Linked DNA regions of Homo sapiens: region 2 is linked to region 1. The links come from fine-mapping of genetic effects on gene expression. Tissue or cell type: whole blood. Region 1 holds a variant in brackets; the other region holds the start of a gene. All regions are shown on one strand. Distances are between the middles of the regions.

What was found. PIP is the estimated chance that this variant, and not a neighbour inherited with it, causes the effect. A credible set is the group of variants that fine-mapping cannot tell apart.
Region 2: PSMD7 starts here. The variant in region 1 is the best candidate, but not a certain one, in a credible set for the expression of PSMD7 in whole blood (TOPMed, PIP 0.84).

Annotation. Positions count from the first base shown.
Region 1 is chr16:74,192,862-74,195,893 of GRCh38, reverse strand. The region is part of intron 3 of PSMD7-DT (PSMD7 divergent transcript); the gene reads left to right. Among named protein-coding and RNA genes, the nearest start is that of PSMD7-DT, 21 kb to the left of the region's middle. The variant C/A (reference allele first, on the strand shown) is at 1,581.
Region 2 is chr16:74,295,402-74,298,166 of GRCh38, reverse strand. It overlaps PSMD7 (proteasome 26S subunit, non-ATPase 7), which reads right to left and starts at 1,353. Exons shown (of 7, transcript NM_002811.5): 1 at 1,179-1,353. The coding sequence starts at 1,252. RefSeq lists enhancers at 339-1,228, 1,129-1,438, 1,229-2,120.

The DNA.
Region 1 (3,032 bases):
ACTAGAAGGTCATGTCATGATTTCACAGAAGGTGAAGGTGCTCTGACTGCTTGGTATTGGGAAGGGTAGGAAGATGGGGTGGGGCATGACATCTACAAGGCTACCGTGAGAGGGTGCACAGAGCGTAGCACAGAGTGTACCGTCATACGATGTAATCAGCACTGATCATGAGAGCTGTGGACTGGGTGTGGGGGCTCATGCCTGTAATCCCAGCACTTTGGGAGGCTGAGGCCAGAGGATTTTTTGAGTCCAGGAGTTTGAGATCAGCCTGGGCAATGTAGTGAGACCCCATCTCTACAAAAACATAATAATAATGAGAACTGTGATTATTATAAAGAGGAAGAGGGATTCAGTCTATGGCCTCAAAAATAAAAAGAATAGATGAGTGGAAGACCTCAAGGATGCAGATTCCAGTTGGATGGGAGGAAAAACAATATTCGAATAGAGCTTTCTAAAAATTAAATGGGCTGTCCCAGGAGAGGACTTTCCAATCTTTGGTGTGGTTGTATGTAATTCAGATCTGTCACTCCCAAACCAGGTACACATCAGAAAATCTGGGTGGGGGGGCTTGTTAAAAACACTCCAGTGTTTCTGACTTAGTAGGTCTGGATGTGGCTCAGAACCTGTATTTTTATCAGCACCTGGGTTATTCTGAGGCAGCTGGTCCATGAACCAGCATTTGGAAATCACTTGTCCATATGACCACCTGATGAAGACATTATGAAGGGAAGTGAGGCATTGGGTGGAAGATTGGGGAAAGATTCAATTTCATTTCATTAAATATATTTTTAGAATGTTTTTGGAACATGTGATTCCTTTCTCTTTTCCCATTTTATTAGGAATGTTTTCAAACACACAAAAAATTGAAAAAATTTTACGGTGAACACCCATATACCCACCACCTAGATTCTCTTATTAACATTTTACTATACTTATTTTGTCACATAAATACTGAGATGAAGTTTACATACAATGAAATGTACAAACTTGAGCATAGCACTTCTATAATTAGGAAGGATGAAAATGTGCATTGGAGCCAAGGGGGGTGGGTGGGTGTTGATGAGTAAGTAACAAGATCAATGGTTAGAAAATTGAGAGATGTCAGAGGATGTGCAAGGTAAGTATCAAATTGGGCTATTGAGGAGGACATTTGAGATGGAGATAAAGTCTGTGCTTATTATGACAAATTCTGTATTTGTGAAATTGCCTATTTGCAAAAATTTCCTTTTTGCAACCACGCCAAAGATTGGGAAGTCCTCTCCTGGGGTGGCCCATTGCATTTTTAGAAAGCTCTATTAGAATGTTGTTTTTCCTGCCATCCCACTAGAATCTTTATCCCTGAGAACCCCCAAATCAGTACTCATGGTGCCTTTGCAGTCATTTGTGGACATGCGTAGAGTGATGAAAAATTTGTTGATAAAAATACAGATTCTGAGCCCCATCTAGATCTACTAAGTCAGAAACACTGGAGTATTTTTAACAAGCCTCCCACCCAGATTTTCTGATGTGTATTTGATTTGGGAGTGGCAGATCTGAATTACAAACAACCACGCCAAAGACTGGAAAGTCCTCTCCTGGGT[C/A]GGCCCATTTCATTTTTAGAAAGCTCTATTAGAATGTTGTTTTTCCTGCCATCCCACTAGAATCTTTATCCCTGAGAACCCCCAAATCTGTACTTATGGTGCTTTTGCAGTCGTTTGTGGATAAGCGTAGAGTGATGAAGGATTTGAATTATCCGACATGGATGTTCCCAGATGATGTTGAATAAGGTAACGCTCTGTCTTCTTGTTTCAGCTCTTGTAAATAAGTGTTTTTAAATTTGCAGTCTGCTTAGTGCCATATTTTCCACATTTTTGTGCTATTTCCTAGTGATTTTGCTGTTTAAAATGCCTCCCTCCTCCGAAGCTTGGTATTGAAGTAGTGTCCAGTATTCCTAAGCAGAAGGCTGTGAAGTGCCTTACAGAGAAAATACGTGTGTTAGATAAGCTTTATTCAGGTAGGAGTTAAGGTGCTTTAGTTCTGAGTTCAATGGTAATGAATCAATAATATATTAAATAAGGTTTATTTAAACAAACACATAAAGCAAGGTTATGTCTTGATTGATAGAAATGTTGTGATCGACGTTTGCAGGAACCCAACACTGTATTTCTCCTGGGATCCATGGTTCAGTGTTCCCTAATTCAGTGTTTCCATTATGTTCAGTAGAACATAACTACCAAGAATAGATTGTAACACCTTGGGTGGGTCAAAGAAATTGATTGGACACTTCAGTGTTTCTCATCTTTGAAGCTCCGATACTTGGAATTTTCTTAGGTGCAAACGTATTTGCAAGAGCACACCAGCAAATCCTAGGCTTTAGAGTGTGACGTTTTTGTGGAATAATTATTCTACTTGTATGAGAAGTTGGCAGGCTAAACATTCCATTTATTTAAACATTCTGCTAAACTAATAATTTGGGGATTATGTTCTTTGATTTCATAGATATTTGTTGTGTGAAAATGTGCTGCATTTCTCTTAAATATAATCCTAGTAGAAGAATGGTTTACATACCCAATCATATCACCTTTTTACTGTGGCTTTATATAGAGATTTGTTTGTTTTCATACCTTTCAAGATTACTTCTTGTCCAGAGCCTGACTCCCGGGGCTGGAATTAGAACTGGGTATGAAGCTTATGAGAAGGGGATAAAATGATAGTTGTGGAACCAGAGAGATAAATATGTCAGGGAACCTCAGACCTGGCCCCACCTACAGGTGTGTGAGGCCTGAAAGGTGAAGCTGAGCCCAGTGGGGAGAGTGTGGATGAAGGTCAAGGTCGAGTTCAGCAATAGACTCCACATCTTTTACTGTAGGCTCCCTCTTCTTGGGCCTGGGACCTAAACGTAGCAGGTCAGAGCTGGACATTCCTAGATATTTTTATTATTTAAACATTAGTAATCGAATATTTTGTTATGCATCTATTGTGTATGAGATATAAAATACAGACATTACAGACCTTATTTTGAAGGATCGACAATCTGTTTGTGGAGGAAAAGA
Region 2 (2,765 bases), 100 kb before region 1:
TTTTTTTTTTGGAGACAGGGTCTCACTCTCACCCAGGCTGGAGTGCAGTGGCATGATCTCAGCTCACGACAGCTTCGAACTCCTGGGCTCAAGCGATCCTCCCGTCTCAGCCTCCCAAAATGCTGGGATTACAGGCGTGAGCCACCATGCTCGGCCTCGTGTTTTAAATAAAAACTGAAACCTCATCTATATATACATTTTTTTTTTTGAGACGGAGTCTAATCAGATTCCCATTTAAAAATGTTAATGGGTTAAAACCACAGCTGATCCAGGAAGCCCTTCGGGGTGCTGAGCATCATCCAGATTTCGATAACAGGAACTCGGTCAAATGAAGACAAACATAGATACGACCCTGGGGGCGGGGGTCAGGGCCAAATTGAAGCTAGCCCCCTTAGCCCCACTCCGGCATCATCCAGGCATCATTCACTTTGCATCATTCACATTTCGGTGAAATCAACTTGGTTAAACGAGGATAAACATAAATACGACCCTGGGGCCGGGGTCAGGGCCAAATGAAGGTAGCCACCCTGCACCCCACTCCAGCATCATCCATATTTCGGTGAAACCAATTCGGTCAAACGAAGATAAACATAGCCTTGGGGCGGGGCTAAATGGAGCTAGCCCACTCCGCCCCACCCAAGCATCATCCAGACATCAGTCACTTTGCATTATTCACATTTCAGTGAAATCAACTGAGTCAAATGAAGATACGACCCTGGGGTCGGGGGTCAGAGCCAAATGAAGCTAGCCCGCCTCCGCCCCACCCTGGCTTTATCCAGATTTCGGCAAAACGAACTTCAAAACGAAGTGACAGACACGAGCTTGGGGGCGGGGGTCAGGGCCAACTAAAGCTAGCCGCATCTCCCGACCCCCAGCATCATCCAGATTTCGGTAAAACGAACTTCGGCAAAACGAACTCGGAAAGGGAACTCTGTAAAACAAACAGGCTAAACGGAACAGGCAGCCAAGGCCCCGAAGTGGCGGCGGCTGGGGCAGGGGCGGGAGGCTGGATGACTCCGGCATCGTGAGCCGACGCTGGTCTGGACTCGTGAACAAGTAAGGGTCACCAGCCGCCCTATCTGCGTCCCCAGCTCGTCCGCGGCCGCCGCGCCATCTCCAGCGTGCCCGTGACTCAGCAGCGGCTGCGCCGCCGGCCCAGCTATAGGGCGCTCGCTCACCGGTTGAAATGATCCACCACACTGAGCAGCACCAGGGGGTGGACCACCACCTTCTGCACTGCCAGCTCCGGCATCGCGACACACCCCGCTCGCCAGGCCTGGCTCCCTGCCACACGCAAACACCGGCAGCAGTAGCGGTCACCGGTACCCTTTCAGGCCCAGTTCCTCTTCTTCCGGTTCGTCAGCCCTCGCGCGGCCTCCTTCTTCCGCTCCCAGAGTGCCTCGCGCGGCGGGCCCGGATCTTCGCCACCGCCGTCATTTGTGGGCGGAGAAAGGGCTGGAGAAAGGCGGGAATCGCCCCTCGTCCCTCGCCGTGCGTTTCCCTGGACTTAAGGGCCGAAGGGACACCGGCGACTTGACCTCCTGGTATTGGCCTGTACCGTCACCTGCAGAGGCTTTTCGCCTCAATTCCTTCCCAGCACCCTCCCCCCGCCACCCCCCCAAAGTAAATAGTTGACAGTTTACTTTTCTACCACCCGGAAGAAGTTCACTTTTGCTTCAGGTCAAAATCCTCCGCGATTTCTGAGAGGAACTTTAAATCTCTAACATAAGAGCACGCTTTTAATGTAATTTGGTAATTTATCTCATTCTCGTTTTCATTGCCGGGGGAATTTCTCCTTTATCTTTACTGTGGACACTTTGCAATGAACGTGGCAACCTGCAGGTTTCCACCTGTCGTTATATTACTGCGTAACTAGGGCTAGAAGAACGCAATTGTGCCGTTGCTTTTGAAATCAAAATTTACAGAAGCGTTGAAGAAAAGACGGAAGGAAGGCAGTAAGGAAGTATGTTGTGATATGTAGCTAGGAAAGAGAAGACTAAGGTAGACAAAGACTTAAGCTTATTTGCAGGAGGCAAATTATAAGAAAAATCATACAGGTTTATATCGTCTCATTTGAAGTTGCTGTTTCTGTAAACGAAAACAGTACTTAAGCAACCTGAATTATTTACTTATATTTTGTTCTGTTTTTAAACAATTTTTGCTTTCCCTTTATCACCAGAGGATTTTCCCAACATTTTGGCCTCTTGTCTTTTTAAGGTGGACTTCCTGATCTCCAAATGTCAAGGGACACACTCAGTCTCTCTTATTTGTGGGTGGTGAAAAACATTAGCAAAGATTAGACTGAAATTTGGCCACCAATGAGAGACATTAATGTAGTCAGGAGTTTGAATTTGTCTGCATGTGAATTTATCTTTGTCTTCTGTCTGCAACTTGGCTTTATTTTCAGATTTTCTGCTAGATCTGCAAGGAAGTAAATGGCAGGATATGCTTAATATTCATAATTAATTGAAGAGACTCAATGCTATCTTTATTTTTTCATTTTTTTTTTTGGTACAGTTGGTGTCTCACTATGTTGTCCAAGCTGGTCTTAAACCCCCAGCCTCAAGCAATCCTCCCACCTCAGCCTCCCAAACTGCTGGGATTACAGGTGTGAGCTACTGTGCCTGGCCATTCATTCTTAATTATAACTAGAAAGATATAAGGGTTATGTTAATGGGGAAAGAAAACTAAGAATTATTGAATCTATTGAGTGCCTATAATATGCCAGCCCTGGTTCAGACGCAAATATTTAATCCTTTTAATTA